Linked DNA regions of Homo sapiens. The protein of the gene in region 3 interacts with the protein of the main gene of each other region in a pairwise test. Each region holds a gene or a part of one and is shown on either strand. Other genes may lie near its edges.

Region 1 (3,720 bases), on a different chromosome or scaffold from region 3:
GCCAAATAATATTCTGCTGTATGGATATACCATATTTTATTTATCTGTTCCTTAACTGACAGACATTTGACAGCTGATAACATTGAGCATAATTTGTCTGACAATCCTGTTTTTCTAGTAAACTCCTCCCACTTTCCATGAATGGTTCTTATCATCTCCACAATTCTCACAGCTCCCAACCTCTCTTCCTCATGAATGACTATGCCTCATATTTCACTGAGAAAATATAGCATTCAAATAATGCTGCATGTTTCTTATCCCCCATCTTCTTGCTGCGTAATATATAAATGATTAGTGTCTAAAGGTATCTTCTCCTAGCTTCCAGATACAAGCAAGGAATCTGTCCTCCATCCTATCAAAGGCTAATACCAGATGTCACTAACTTGCTGTAATGTTTACTGCTTCTCTACTACACAAATTCTCCTCCTTGGAATCATTACCATAGTGAAAAAAAACTTGTTCCAGAATCTCTTCAACAAAAAATCTTCATTAATCCTATCCTACCACCCCTTCCACCCAGCAATAGAAATATGCTTTTCACTTCCTGTTTACTCTTCAAATCACTCCAATTTGGTTTCTGATACCACTACCACACCAAAACAATCCTTGCTAATGATGATCCCTACACTATCAAATTTAATACTTTTCTTTGATGATACAAAACATTTTGTTGTTGTTCCCATTATATTGCTTTTCATCCATATAGTCTGACATGAAAGATTATCCAGAGGTCCCTTCATTCTTCAGTCTTAGCTGCAGCGTCCAAACTCTGTCTGGCCAAGACCTGGGTGACCTGCTAGTCACTTATAAAAAGGAAACTTTATATCATATTATTGGACCTCTCAGCAACATTCGAAAGTGCAGACTGCTTCTTTCTTCTCAAAATTGTTTCTTCTTTAGTGTGCGCTTCCATGATTTCGCACCCTCTCCTGCACTTCCTTCTGTCTCTTGGGTCACACCTCCTCAGTTTCCTTTCTTGGCTCTCTTGCTCTAGCCACTCTTCCAGTGTCAGAGTTACTGAGGACTTTAGTCCCAGGTTGTCTTCTCTTCTTACACCAAACAATACACTCCCCCAGTATTGCCCATTCTTATAGTTTAATGTATTATTTGTATAGAGAAGACTGTCCATGTTTTTAACTTCAATCGAGATCTCTTTGGGCTCCTTATTTGTATATTACCTACTTGATATTTGTCATCCTTTAACATGCCTAAAATCTGAACTCACCATCTTAAATCTCCTCACACCTGTTCTGTCCTCGTTTCAATAAATGCTCCCATCACATGCTCAGTTACTCACATCAAACAGGACTGAATGTTCTGAATGTTTGAAATGTTCTGAAATTAGTGATGATGGCTGTAAAACTTTGTGAATGTTCTGAAATTAGTGATGATGGCTGTACAACTTTGTGAACATAGTAAAAACTACTGAACTGTAGACTTTAATTTTTTTTTAGAGATGGGGTCTTGTGGCTGCACATAGTGGCTCATGCCTGTGATCCCAATACTTTGGGAGGCTGAGGCAGGCAGATCACTTGAGCCCAGGAGTTTAAGACCACCCCGGGCAACATGGCCACCATTTCTACAAAAAATACAAAAATTAGTGCGGTGTGGTGGCTCACACCTGTGGTCCCAGCTCCTCAGCCTGGGAGGCGGAGGTTGCAGTAAGCCAAGATCACGCCACTGCCCTCCAGCCTAGGAGACAGAGCAAGACTGTTTCCAAAAAAGAAAGAGAGAGAGAGAGAGAGATTGGGTCTCACTCTCTTCCCAGGCTGGAGTACACTGGCACCATCATAGCTCACTACAGCCTTTACTTCTCACACTCAAGTGATCCTCCCAGCTCAGCCTCCCGAGTGTCTGGGACTATAGGCATGTGACACCCCATCTGGCAAATCTTTAAATTTTTGGCAGACATGAGGTCTCACTGTGTTGCCCAGGCTGGTCTTGAACTCCTGGCCTCAAGTGATCCACCCACTTCGGCCTCCCAAAGTGGTGGGATTACAGGCATGGACCATTGTGTCCAGCCTGAACTGTATACTTTAAAAGGGTGAATTTTGTGATATGTAAATTATCTCAGTAAAGCAGTTAAACACATACAAATTAAGAGTCACTCACCCATCACTTTATCTACTCAACATAATTTATCAATAAATCCTGTCTATTCTACCACACTCCCTCAGCGTATCTTAAAACCACTTCTAAATGCTGTGCTACCACCACTCTAATCTTGGCAATGTCGTTTGTCACCTAGTTTACTGGACTACTTTATGACAGCAGCCTCCTAACTGGTATTTCTCTTTCCACTCTTCTCGCCCCCAATTTATTCTTCTCACAACAGACACAGTCACCTTTTTAAAACCTTACATTTATCAGATAACTTTCTGGCTTAAAACTCTTTACTGAAAGTTTCCTCTTATCCTTCAGATTTTGGCTTGAATGTCACTATTTTAGAAAGACCTTTCTTGACTAACTCTTCTAGAGAAGGTTCTGCCTGTTACGCCCTCTCAACAGTACTCTATCTTCTTATCATTTATCACAATTTGTAACCATAGATCCCATCCCTTCGCTTATCTGTTTTATGTCTCTACTTTCCATTAGTCTAAATCTTATTTCTTGACATAGTGCTTACCACAATGCCTAGCTAATGTAGGCACAATGTGTGTGTTAAATAAAAAGAACAAAGAGTTCATAAACATTTTGTTTTAACGTTTTATAATTATTAACAGTGCCCTTACAAATATATTTGAACACAGGTACAGGTAGGTGTTTCTGTAGAACAGATTTCTAAAAGCTACATTTGCAAGTCAAAGGAGGTTTCCTTTCTTTTTTTTTTTCTTCCATTTTGAAATTAAGAATGTTTTTGTAGATATGAGCTAAGAATAACAAAAAAAATTTTTGGCTCCAAAAAGTTTTAATGATTTATACCCCTGATGTTGGTTCCATTGTCTTTTGCTTAATATTTTTAAAATATATAAACTATTTCTTAAGTTCAAAATTTTGTTACTTAGATTACATTTTGTTTCCTCCTTCTTTTTGTAACTACTACCTAAATTAACATTTTAATTAATATAGTTTTTTAAACAACAGAGAAAGTATCAATTCATAGGCTTAAATACCCATGGCATGACATTTCCTAATTTTTCTCTTTAATAAAGCAATTTATTAGCAAATGGAAGAACTAAATGAGGTGACTAATATAGGTTTAAATAACCTTGTAATCATATTTGAGGTATTTACTTTTGTCAGCTCCATTCACTTAAAAAAAATACATTTTGATCATTTTACTTACCATATGTATCATATGGATCTACACTGGGACTCGGCATATTCCACCACTGGATGGTTGCATCAATACCACCACTAAAACACTGTTCTCCATTAGAACTAATAGCTAATGACAGAACAGGGCCGCTATTGTAGGAAGAGAGGAAAAACAAATTACTGATAAATTCTAAGAAGAAACTCAAATCTCCATTCCCCCAACCTCTGAATTTATGTAATATCTAAAAACTGTTTTAAGAGAACATGTACACCTGACTGGTACTTTTTTTTTTTTTTTTTTTTTGGAGACAGGGTCTCACTCTGTCACCAGCCCAGACTGGAATGCAGTGGTGATCTCTGCTCAGTAAAACCTCCACCTCCCAGGTTCGAGCGATTCTCCTGCCTCAGCCTACTGAGTTGCTGAGACTACAAGCGCACGCCAACATGCCCAGCTAATTTTTG
Region 2 (3,720 bases), on a different chromosome or scaffold from region 3:
CTCCAGCCTGAGTGACAGAACAAGACTCCGCCTAAAAAAAAAAAAGTAGCAGAAAAGTCATACAAATGAAGAGTAAGGCTCCACAATGAACCTATTATTAGATAGGTAATCTAACCCTCTAGAGGATTCACTTGGTAGCTTTCCGGTTTCATAGTGTACTCTATACTAATAATGCATATTTTTTCAGGAAAACAGATTTGAATGTTCTTATCATCTCAAATAAACTGCTAAGCATATTGCACAAATACGTTTTTTTTTTTTTTTGAGACGGAGTCTTACTCTGTCGCCCAGGCTGGAGTGCAGTGGTGCAATCTCGGCTCACTGCAACCTCCACCTCCCAGGTTCAAGCTATTCTTCTGCCTCAGCCTCCCATGTAGATGGGATTACAGGCATGCATCACCACACCTGGCTAATTTTTGTATTTTTTTAGTAGAGATGGGGTTTCACCATGTTGGCCAGGCTGGTCTTGAACTCCTGGCCTCAAATGATCTGCCCACCTTGGCCTCCAAAGGGCTGGGATTACAGACGTGAGCCACTACATCTGGTCCATATGTATTGTCTGTTAACAATGAGATGCTTGAAGAAATAAAAATCAACTACTTTTACTAAAATATTCGCATAGCATGGAAGAACTACACAAAGAAACCTTTAGCACATTCAACAAGGATTCACAAAATAAAGTATATACAATTTAAAATTTAGCTGCTCAAAAAAGATGTCATCATATAGACAGTAGGGCAAAGTACTCACATAAAAAACTTAGTTCTACTATTACAGTGAATTTGACATCAACCAATAAATGTGTTTATAATCGTAACACAGTCCTTACTAACAATGTAATCAAGGATTTTTTTTTTTTGAGACGGAGTTTTTGAGACGGAGTTTTGCTCGTTACCCAGGCTGGAGTGCAATGGCACGATCTCAGCTCACCGCAACCTCCACCTCCCGGGTTCAAGCGATTCTCCTGCCTCAGCCTCACGAGTAGCACCACGCCCGGCTAATTTTTGTATTTTTAGTAGAGACAGGGTTTCTCCATGTTGGTCAGGCTGGTCTCGAACTCCTGACCTCAGGTGATCTGTCTGCCTTGGCTTCCCAAAGTGCTGGGATTACAGGCGTGAGCCCCTGTGCCTGACCAAGGATTTCTAATTGTATTCTGATAGTAAAAGTTGTTAAGTCATCAAGAATTTAACTGAGAAACTGTTCTAGAAATCCAAATTTGACATCTCAAGTCAGAGAAAAGGAAATGTATACACACAAAAGAAGGGTTACTTATGGGAACATAAATAGTTAAAAGTTAGCTACTTTCCCAGATGTGATAGGAGAAAAAGAATGAATTGACTATACGATCTTTTGGAAAGAAAAGCCTAAGTTTACCTTCGGATATACATAGGGTAATTCAAACAAAAAGTGGAGCCTAACTTCCTTATCACACAGAACTGTCTTGTTCCCCTCTTAGAACACTTACTTTTATAAATCAATGGTTTGCCAGGCTCATTAATTTTTTAGTAGTATTTATGTATATATAAGTACATTTTCAAAATTCTGAAAACAGTATTAAGGAAAAACAGGAACTGTTTCACTTAGGTCTTACCTAGTATAGTAGTGAATCAACTTCACAATTAGTAAGATTATCAACATGAATACAAAAGCAAGACTACAAACTGATTATTTTCTTTTGGAGATGTTTTATGATCAATTCCAAACATACAGTACAGGGAAGGTGAAATGAGTAAGAAAAAAAAATCATATTTAAGTCCCCGTTAACACTAAGCCATATTATTCAAAATGTGTTTCAAAATACTCAGCCAGATCACCAAATCTCAGTCACTACCTTAGTATAAATATTCACTAAGAAAATAGTCAAGCAACAGAAATCCATTGTGAGACACCATCTAGAGAGAACAGCTACACTGCTATATATAATTTATTAACTTAGTAGTTTAGTTTCTCAATATTTAGCAAGTTTAAAAATTACCATTACCATTGGTTTATAGTGCCATTAATATAAATCCATAATTTCAAAGTCATCATTCCTTTCACTGTGAACTAAGACTTCTTAAAAGATAGTTGTGGGTTGGGGAACAGTAATGACTGTAGCTGATGGGCAGTGTTCAAAGCCAAAAAGACTGGCAAGCTTGGAAAGGCATACACTATACATACACACACTCTCAGTATACTACTGTTCCCCTTATTTTTGCTGTACATTCTTGTCTGAAAAGATGGTATAAATTATTCCCTTAAATTTGAAAAAACAATTAAGATGAATACATTTTCATCTTCAAAATTATCCTTCTAAATAAAAAAGTTCCTCATGTTTGTTAAATCTGTTCAAAAGTTGGATTTAAATACTTTCTTCACAACATGTACAATGTTTTCACCCTTACTGCCTCATTACAATCAGTTTGGCAATAAGACCTCCAGTGCTTTATCAAAAATGGCATTCAATAGATTATAAGATTGTTAAATCTGCATTTCAATCATTCTTACCACAATGAATTATAACAAAGTCCAAAAAAATGTATGACTATTCATCAACACCCTTGGAACCTATGAATTATTGCAAATAATCTCACACGTGCATGTAATCCAAACATAAACTTCGTGGGAGAGGGGGTGTAAAATAAATACTATGGTATTTCTTCAATTCTATTTAATGCTGCCTAGCTGGTTAAATGAAAGATTAATATATTACTAACAGGAAGAGTCAAACTATTTTAAGGACTGTTTTCTAAGTAGAACAATTTTGCAAAACAAAGATAAGCAAGAGCCTATGCAAATACATTTTCTTGTAGTGTAATGTAATTGCTAATATGAGGTATAATCTGTAAGCAATTAATACAAATATAAATAGGTATAAGCCACCACTAACTCAGTCTGGTGAAAAGCTTCTCAGCTAAAGTAGTTTGAAGATAAGGTTAAGGGAAATGAGAAGGGGTGGACAGGGCAGGTTTCCAGTGGGAAAATAATTTATGTGCCTTACCATTGTGATCATCCTGTATGTACCAGTCCGTTGTTGCAGAACGGTAAATCCTTTCCAAGTATGTTATACTTTATGTAGCACAGTAAAATTATTTAAGTATTACTAATGCTTCATTTGCATTTGTATTTAGATATACACATAATTATATATGCATATCAAAAACTATAAACAGAATTTTAAAACACTTTTATCTCAATTGGGGAAAGTTAACAGGTAAGACAAAACTACGTACTACAGAATTTTTTAGGATATCTAAACTCAAGGTAAAACCAATAGAAAACATTTCTACCTCTTTAGTAAATGGCTTGTGTGAAACCTCAAGCTCTCCCTCATTTTTTTTACAGATGGGTTTGTCTGATGAGGATTGTGATCCAATGATTGTTTAGCAGCAATTTTACCAAACTGTAAATTCTTTTATTAACAGGCATTATAAACAGATAATACTAATCTTATTTAAAAACCATGAGTGCCACACTGGTGAATATACAGCTTATGAATAACTTAAAAAGTATTTCCCATTTTAAAAGGCAAACCCAGCATACAAAAACCTATACTAAACAAAGAAGCTATAATATGGATACATGATTGATGTGTCTAAAATGATATATACAGTACATAATGTTAATTATATGATCAGTACATTTTTCCTATGATTCCCTTCATGCTTCACTTTCCCCAGAAACTGAATTCTGTACTTCCTCTTCTAAAATTGGTACAATCAGGTTATCCTTGGACATCAA
Region 3 (3,720 bases):
GAGGCTGAGGCAGCAGAATTGCTTGAACCCAGGAGGCAGAGTTTGCAGTGAGCTGAGATTGCACCACTGCGCCCCGGCCTGGGAAACAAAGCGAGACTCTGTCTCAAAAAAAAAAAAAAAAAAAAAGAATAGTTTCTGAGTGTTTGGTTTTGACAAGTTATTGATCTACTTTGGGACTTTTAAAATGGATTTTTAGTTGATTTTGTGTTTTTAAAGTAACACTAAAAATAGGAACGGAGCACAGAACAGCCTTGGGTCCCTAAGTGTAATTATACAGGCTGATTATTGATTGTGGTGGGCATAATACAATCAGTCTTCTCTGGATTTGTATCTTGGCAGAATCACATTTGCAGTGCTACCAGTTGATTTGCAGCGTAGGATTTGAATTCTTGGTTTTTCTGAGTGGAGCAGAATGGTGTTTCTTGGGGGTTTCCATCTAACTGGTGTTTGACGTCATGAAGCAGGAAGCAGAGATATGCTTCTAGAGGAAATTTGTTCAGTCTATGCTGGTTGGCCCCAGGAGTGGCTTATTAGCATGTTTTCTAAAGGCCATTTTAAAATTTCTGAATATTTGGCCGAGCATGGTGGCTCACACCTGTAATCCCAGCACGTTGGGACATTGAGGCAGGCAGATCACCTGAGATCAGGAGTTTGAGACCAGCCTGGCCAACATGGTGAAACCCCTTCTCTACTAAAAATACAAAAACTAGCCAGGCATGGTGATGGTCACCTGTAATCCCAGCTACTCGGGAGCCTGAGGCAGGAGAATGGCTTAAACCCAGGAGGCGGAGGTTGCAGTGAGCCGAGATCACGCCATTGCACTCCAGCCTGGGCAAGAAGAGAGAAACTTCATCTCAAAAAATAAAAAATTAACAAAATTAAAGTTTCTGAATATTTGCTGCTAATAACTAAAATTTAAATCTTCCAAAGTTCAATTTAAAGCCTTTTAGTGAGAAAATGGCTTACTTATCATGAGCCTGGAGAATGTAATTATTTACAACACAGACTTTAAAGGCAAACCTAGGTTCAAATCCCAACTGTGCTACTGTTCACTGTGTGATCCAGGGCAAGAGAAAAATTTTCTGTCTTCACCGTAGCTCAGTCTGTTTCCTCAGCTGTGAGATAGAAATAACTTGGAGAGGTTTCTTTAAGGATTACACGAATAGGCCAGGTGCGGAGGCTCACACCTGTAATCACAGCACTTTTGGAGGCCGAAGCGGGTGGATCGCTTGAGGCCAGGAGCTCGAGACCAGCCTGGCCAACATGGCAAAACTCTGTCTCTACTAAAAATACAAAAATTGCCAGGTGCAGTGGCTCACCTGTAATCCCAGCACTTTGGGAGGCCAAGGCAGGCGGATCACCTAAGGTCAGGAGTTTGAGACCAGCCTGACCAACATGGAGAAACCCCATCTCTACTAAAAATACAAAATTAACAGGGTGTGGTGGCACATGCCTGTAATCCCAGCTACTCCGGAGGCTGAGGCAGGAGAATGGCTTTAACCCGGGAGACGGAGGTTGCAGTGAGCCAAGATCGTGCCATTGCACTCCAGCCTGGGCAACAAGAGCGAAACTCTGTCTCAAAGAAAAAAAAAAATACAAAAATTAACCAGGCATGGTGGCACGTGCCTGTAGTCCCAGCTACTCAGGAAGCTGAGGCATGAGAATTTGCTTGAACCCAGGAGGTGGAGGTTGTAGTGAGCTAAGATTGTGTCACTGCACTCCAGCCTGGGTGACACAGCAAGACTCTGTCACCAAAAAAAAAAAAAAAAAAAAAAAAGGATTACATGAATATACACACATACACGTGCACATATCACAAAGCAAGGTACCCAGGATATAAGAAGCACTTAGTAATTGACAGGTATTATTATTAGCACTTGGCATGTGAGTTAAAGAATTTAATATTCAACATTATTTTACCCCTTCAGCATTTTAGCAAAGGTGAAGACTTAGTGTTGGATTTTAGTTATTGATTGGTTTTGTTTTAAATTTTTCAACATATGACTAAGTCCTGAATAGAGGGAAACAAAGCTTGTTTGCATATGTCATGATCTCAAGCATCTGAGCCAAAGATTTTTAGGAGAGTGTGTATCTGTCTTGGAGTGTGTGTATTTAATAATTTTGTCATGCAGATTATCTTTCTTGAGTTTTTTGGTCCAAGGAAAAAAGAAAGGCAAGGGATTCAGCTAGCCGATGTCTTCTTTCTGAATTGTCAGTTGCTCCACTCTAAGCTCTACTATCTTTAAGTAGCATCATCCTGAATGTCATATAAATGGTTTTGTAGATACTGTGATTACCGTGCAGAGTTATACCTTCTGTGAAATTTAAGGGACTTTTAATGGTAATTTTGATTAAAAGTGGTTTTTACCTTACTTTTGAAGACAGCCTCCCCCACTGTCCTCAAAGTAAGGAGCGATGATAGGAACAACCAAAACTGGAGTGAGAAGAAAACATGGATAGGGGAGTTGAGTAGAGGTGGGGGAACATGAAAGGCGGGAGTTTGTGGGTTGAAGAAAACAAGACTACAAAGAGGCATTGAACTAGATAATGCAATGCGCTGTAATATGGCTCATCTTTGCCAGTTATTTCCAAACTCTGCATTTCAGGTACAGAGCCAGAACTTCCAATCTAAATGTGTCATTTGCTGTTTAATGAATCCTTTCTGACTTCTGGAGCCACAAAGAATATAGTTCTCAATTGTTACTGAATTTAAAGAATGCAACCCTTAATTGTTACTGAGTTTAATAGAAACAAGAAAGGAAAATAGGAAAGCACAGGATGATGGGGTGGGTCTACAGACAAAGACTCCTGACCGTGAGCTTCGGGAGCATCTGCGTAGATTCTTTGTGCAAAACTGCTGGGAAAGGCTAGGCTGAAGCTGAAGTGTGCTCTGGGTCTACTCACCATAGAAAGGTGAGAGCCAGGCCAGGCATGGTGACTCACGCCTGTAATCCCAGCACTTTGGGAGGCTGAGGCAGGTGGATCACCTGAGGCTGGGAGTTCAAGACCAGCCTGACCAACATGGAGAAACCCCGTCTCTACTAAAAATACAAAATTAGCCAGGCATGTTAGCACATGCCTGTAATCCCAGCTACTCGGGAGGCCAAGACAGGAGAATCGTTTGAACCCAGAAGGCGGAGATTGTGGTGAGCCAAGATCGCGCCATTGCACTCCAGGCTGGGCAACAACAGTGAAACTCCATCTCAAAAAAAAGAAAAGTGAGAGCCAGGGAAGGAGAACAGAAAGTAGAAGCAGGGATAAATTGTTTTAACACGAGATAAGAATTGTAAGTTATAATGGAGAGAAGGATGAAAGATAACTGACAGGTAAGTTATAGGAAAAAGAAAGAAGCACAAACTGGGTTTTTTGTTGGAGAATGGGGGCTCCAGGGAGGCCCTCATTACTTGGTTTCTGCTAAATAGTCCTTTCTGTTACAGCAGGTGCTACAGAAGTAACAACAGAACCAATCTAGTTCTTAACTGACTTAATGTTTGAGGGTATAACAATGATCTGGTCTAGCCCTATATATCAGTTTCATCTTGTTGCCTCTTGTCCTTAAATTGAGGGCACAGAATAAATTTCCTTAAAAGGCTCTATCCCCAAAGACTTCTTCACTTCTAAACCCTTAGCCATCACCACACTAACAGACTCTTAACACGTTCCTCTTGGGGGTCAAATAACTTCTCATTCAGCCTGTCTCGTATCACAGTCATCATTTCC
Region 4 (3,720 bases), 2.4 Mb from region 3:
TTGGTGGTCAGCAGTTGCTGTGAGCTCCTGGGCAGCCATGAAACATTAGGAAGCTGTCAGGTCTAACCCAATGAAGATGAGCATCAAGCTGTGTACACAAGAAGGTGGGAGTCCAGGGAACACCATCAAGTGTTTCATCCAAATACAAAATACCCCACGACCAGGTCCTGAGTAACAGTGTGAGTAGGAGGCCACACTTAGCTGTGGCTCTAGTAAGTCACTTGACCCTGGATTGCCTTTGGGAGTCTCAACCCAGAGTCCCACCTAGGACGAGCCCTCAGCAGTTCCTACTAATCATTCACACTGAGCCCATCACACATGCAGATGATGTGTACAGAAGCACACACAGCAATGACACCCACAGACAGCCTCCCACACCCTGCTCTGATCTCATCTCTGACTAACGCTCAGGAGCCCAGGCTTGCTGCTCGCCTCACCTGAGGTCTGTGCTGTCAGCCAGGGAGATGGCAGGCTTCCTCACAGCACTGCTGCAGGCGGCACTGTTGCTGCAGGAGATTTTGAGAGTCAGCATCTTCCTCCAAGAAGGAAGATAAGTGATGTCCCTGACAAGTACTGACCAATGGGGAAACAAAATGCTGTGATACGTGCTTGGACTGCACAAGAGGCCACAGGACACGGTGGTTAAGAAACCAGACCATGGCTGGGCATGGTGGCTCATGCCTGTAATCCCAGTACTTCGGGAGGCCGAGGCGGGTGGATCACCTGAGGTCAAGAGTTTGAGACCAGCCTGGCCAACATGGCGAAACCCCATCTCTACTAAAAATACAAAAATTAGCTGGGTGTGGTGGCAGGCACCTGTAAACCCAGCTACTCAGAAGGCTGAGGCAGGAGAATAGCTTGAAGCCGGGAGGTGGAGGTTGCAATGAGCCAAGTTCACGCCATATCACTCCAGCCTGGGCAACAGAACAAGACTCTCTCTCAAAAACAAAAACAAAAACAAAAAAAACACAAAAACAAAAACAAAAAACCCAGCCATGCACTGGACTGCCACGGTTTGAATCCTGGCTCTAACTGCGCCTTAGTTTCCTCATCTGTAAAATGGGGATGACAGTAGTACCTATATCCTTAACATGAATTAGCACATGTAATATTCTGAGAACAATGCCCGGGACACACAGGCACTCAATGAGCTGTCTTAGCTTTATCATTGATGGTGTTATCCTTAGATGAGCAGCAGCTGACCTGTCCACTGGACAAAGGTGACACAGGCAAGGCCAGGCACTGGTTGAGCCCATATGTCAGTCTTGTGCCTGGCCTCCTGCCAAGGCGGAAACTGCAGGGCGAACACAGCAGTGTCTGCAGGTTCAAAAGAGAGCTCAAAGTGAAGAGTCTCCTTCTGAGGAGCACCCCAGGCCTGGGCAGGGCCTGCACTGTCTGGTGTAAAAACTCTGGCATCAGGGAGCTGCAGGGACCTGTCATTAGTCTCCATTAATCTTCAAGGTGTAAGTGACCAACTCCGTTATTCAACCCAGGTGGTCAGAACACAGCCTGGGACCAGAACTTCTGCCCCATTTAACCCTCTCAAAGCCAGTTAGTTCTGCAAGCTCTGTCCCCCTTCCCATCCCAGCCTCCCCTTCCCTACTCAGCCTCTCAAAAATGCTCACTCTATTTCCATGTTCAGAAGCTCCACCAAAGCATTGAACGTGCCCACCTCCAGGAGGAGAAAGATGTTGTAGCGCATCCAGGACTGCACCTCTGCCTCCGAGCTGCACTCCCCAAACGTGCCTGCAATGCAGGGTTCAACTCACTGAGCCCCTCCCTGCATCTGAGTGGGCAGAGGTGCCAGGGAACCCTGGGGAGGTCCACTCAATACCTTGAGCAACATAGAGAATTGCTCGAGCCACCTTGAGTCTCTTCTCCCTGGCAGTGACTTCCAAGCCATCCAGGAGCCTCATGGCATGGGTCCGGTGCTGGTTGGTATCCAGCTCAGTCCACTTCTTGTCTGTCACTGCAGGGCAAGAAACCAGTTACACCTGAGCCTAGAAAAATCCTCACAATGGCATGGACCCATGTTAACTCACCAAATTCAGGACTGCCATAGGACCAGAAAGATAAGTTACACCCTATGTAAGTGGTAAGATCATACTGCTGCTCTATGAATTTGATTCCAAACTGAAACGCTGGTATTTTGGGTGCAATTTTAATCACATGATTTTTTTTTCTCCCCTAATATGCACATTCTGAAAAGCCCCCACCGATGTGCCACAAGCCCACTCTACATGTATCTGGCTTTGAACCATCAGGGTTCAGCAGGCTTCTCAGGCTGTTCCAGGATGACTCAGGTCATTCAGATGCCTAAAAGAAACCTGCAGCTCTCGTTATGCAGGGCAAAGGAAGCAAGAAGTGTGGGAAATCATCTCACCATGGATCCGGAAGTCCTCCTCAAAGCATTTTCGATTCATCAGGAATTCTGGCCCTTCCGTGTAGCTGTAAAGCTCTGTCAGAACAAAGTCTCGTCACCATTGGTTCCATGTCTGCATTGCACACCAGGTCTCACAAGTGCAGAGAAGGCAAGGCATTTGCTTCCACTCTCAACTCTGCCCCTGAGTCATAGTGACTCCTGGAATAAGCTCTCTAATTATGAAGGGGATCTTAGTGCTCTGATGTGCACAATAGAGACAACCAGAGTGCCAGAATGCCATCTGGACACTTCCAGTCCGATGTGCATCCATCCCACCATGCCATGCCAGGGCTGACGGCCACCTGGGATGCATCTCTCAAATGGCTGCTACCTCTTGAGCAGGATGTGTATTGTAGAGGCTGGAGAAGCAGCTCACACCGACCTCGCATTACATGAGAGTGGCAGTGGCAGCAGCAGATGGGCACAGATGCAGGCATCCCTCATGACCCATTGCTGGAGGAGAGACCACTGTCAGGGTCACAGTGGATAGCCAAGGAACATCACTGTCTCACAATGGGACTGGGCTCTAGCCAGCTTCATAAAAGTAAAGGACAACACAAAGTTATAAGATACACAAGGCTTGAATCAAATAACATGTTTTATACATATATATATATATATATATATATATATATATATATATATATTTGATAGAACTAGGGAAAGCAATGAAGCCCTAAATGATATTCATTATTAATTTTATTAAAGACCAATAAGGAAAAAACCACCCCCAAATAACACAAAGGTCTGTGCGTTACCCGAGAGCTCTGCAGCCCACTTGTCTGTGTCAGCATACTCAAACTCCAGGTCTGGTGACTCCGAATAGCCCTGCTGACAAGAGGAGAGAGCTTTAGGAAAAAGGATCATTCTATTTATCAAAGAAACTCATGCTTCGAGATGCTGTTGTGTTACAGGACACCACTGCCTCCACTTTTTTATGTTTTTTCACATTTTGTTTCCTAAAACCTCTCAGAGTATCCTATACTTTTCCTTCAGAGCATTTATCATAACTTATCATTATAGGATGTGTTTACTGTCTGCCTTTCCACAAGACTGTAAGTTCCCTGAGAACAAGAACATCATCCATTTAACTTACCAATGATTTCACAAGGTCCAGCATGGTACCTGGCATGAATAAGTGAATGAATGAATGGTCTATACACACATATTTGTTAAATGAATAAATACAAGGTTTCTATGTATTTTGTGCAGTAAATGACCATTCCATATGATGCTATGATTCCAGAAGTCTTAACTTCTTTCTGGCTAGTGGACTGTCAACAGCTCAGGACAAAAAT

What was found.
Region 1: the proteins of CTTNBP2NL (region 3) and STRN3 interact in binary tests that used the Homo sapiens proteins (3 or more experiments, as listed by UniProt).
Region 2: the proteins of CTTNBP2NL (region 3) and MOB4 interact in binary tests that used the Homo sapiens proteins (3 or more experiments, as listed by UniProt).
Region 4: the proteins of CTTNBP2NL (region 3) and STRIP1 interact in binary tests that used the Homo sapiens proteins (3 or more experiments, as listed by UniProt).

Annotation. Positions count from the first base shown.
Region 1 is NC_000014.9:30,907,755-30,911,474, forward strand, and holds part of STRN3 (striatin-3), read right to left. Parts: intron 3,409-3,720; coding exon 3,287-3,408; intron 1-3,286. UniProt on the Homo sapiens protein: Calmodulin-binding scaffolding protein which is the center of the striatin-interacting phosphatase and kinase (STRIPAK) complexes.
Region 2 is NC_000002.12:197,550,566-197,554,285, reverse strand, and holds the end of MOB4 (MOB-like protein phocein), read right to left. Parts: coding exon 3,640-3,720; 3' UTR 587-3,639; downstream 1-586. Other genes in the region: HSPE1-MOB4 protein, read right to left, coding at 3,640-3,720.
Region 3 is NC_000001.11:112,399,214-112,402,933, forward strand, and holds part of CTTNBP2NL (CTTNBP2 N-terminal-like protein), read left to right. Parts: intron 1-3,720. UniProt on the Homo sapiens protein: Regulates lamellipodial actin dynamics in a CTTN-dependent manner. Associates with core striatin-interacting phosphatase and kinase (STRIPAK) complex to form CTTNBP2NL-STRIPAK complexes.
Region 4 is NC_000001.11:110,037,421-110,041,140, reverse strand, and holds part of STRIP1 (striatin-interacting protein 1), read right to left. Parts: intron 3,251-3,720; coding exon 3,181-3,250; intron 2,459-3,180; coding exon 2,384-2,458; intron 1,970-2,383; coding exon 1,835-1,969; intron 1,747-1,834; coding exon 1,626-1,746; intron 1,318-1,625; exon of another isoform or gene 1,204-1,317; intron 507-1,203; coding exon 438-506; intron 1-437. UniProt on the Homo sapiens protein: Plays a role in the regulation of cell morphology and cytoskeletal organization. Required in the cortical actin filament dynamics and cell shape. Part of the striatin-interacting phosphatase and kinase (STRIPAK) complexes.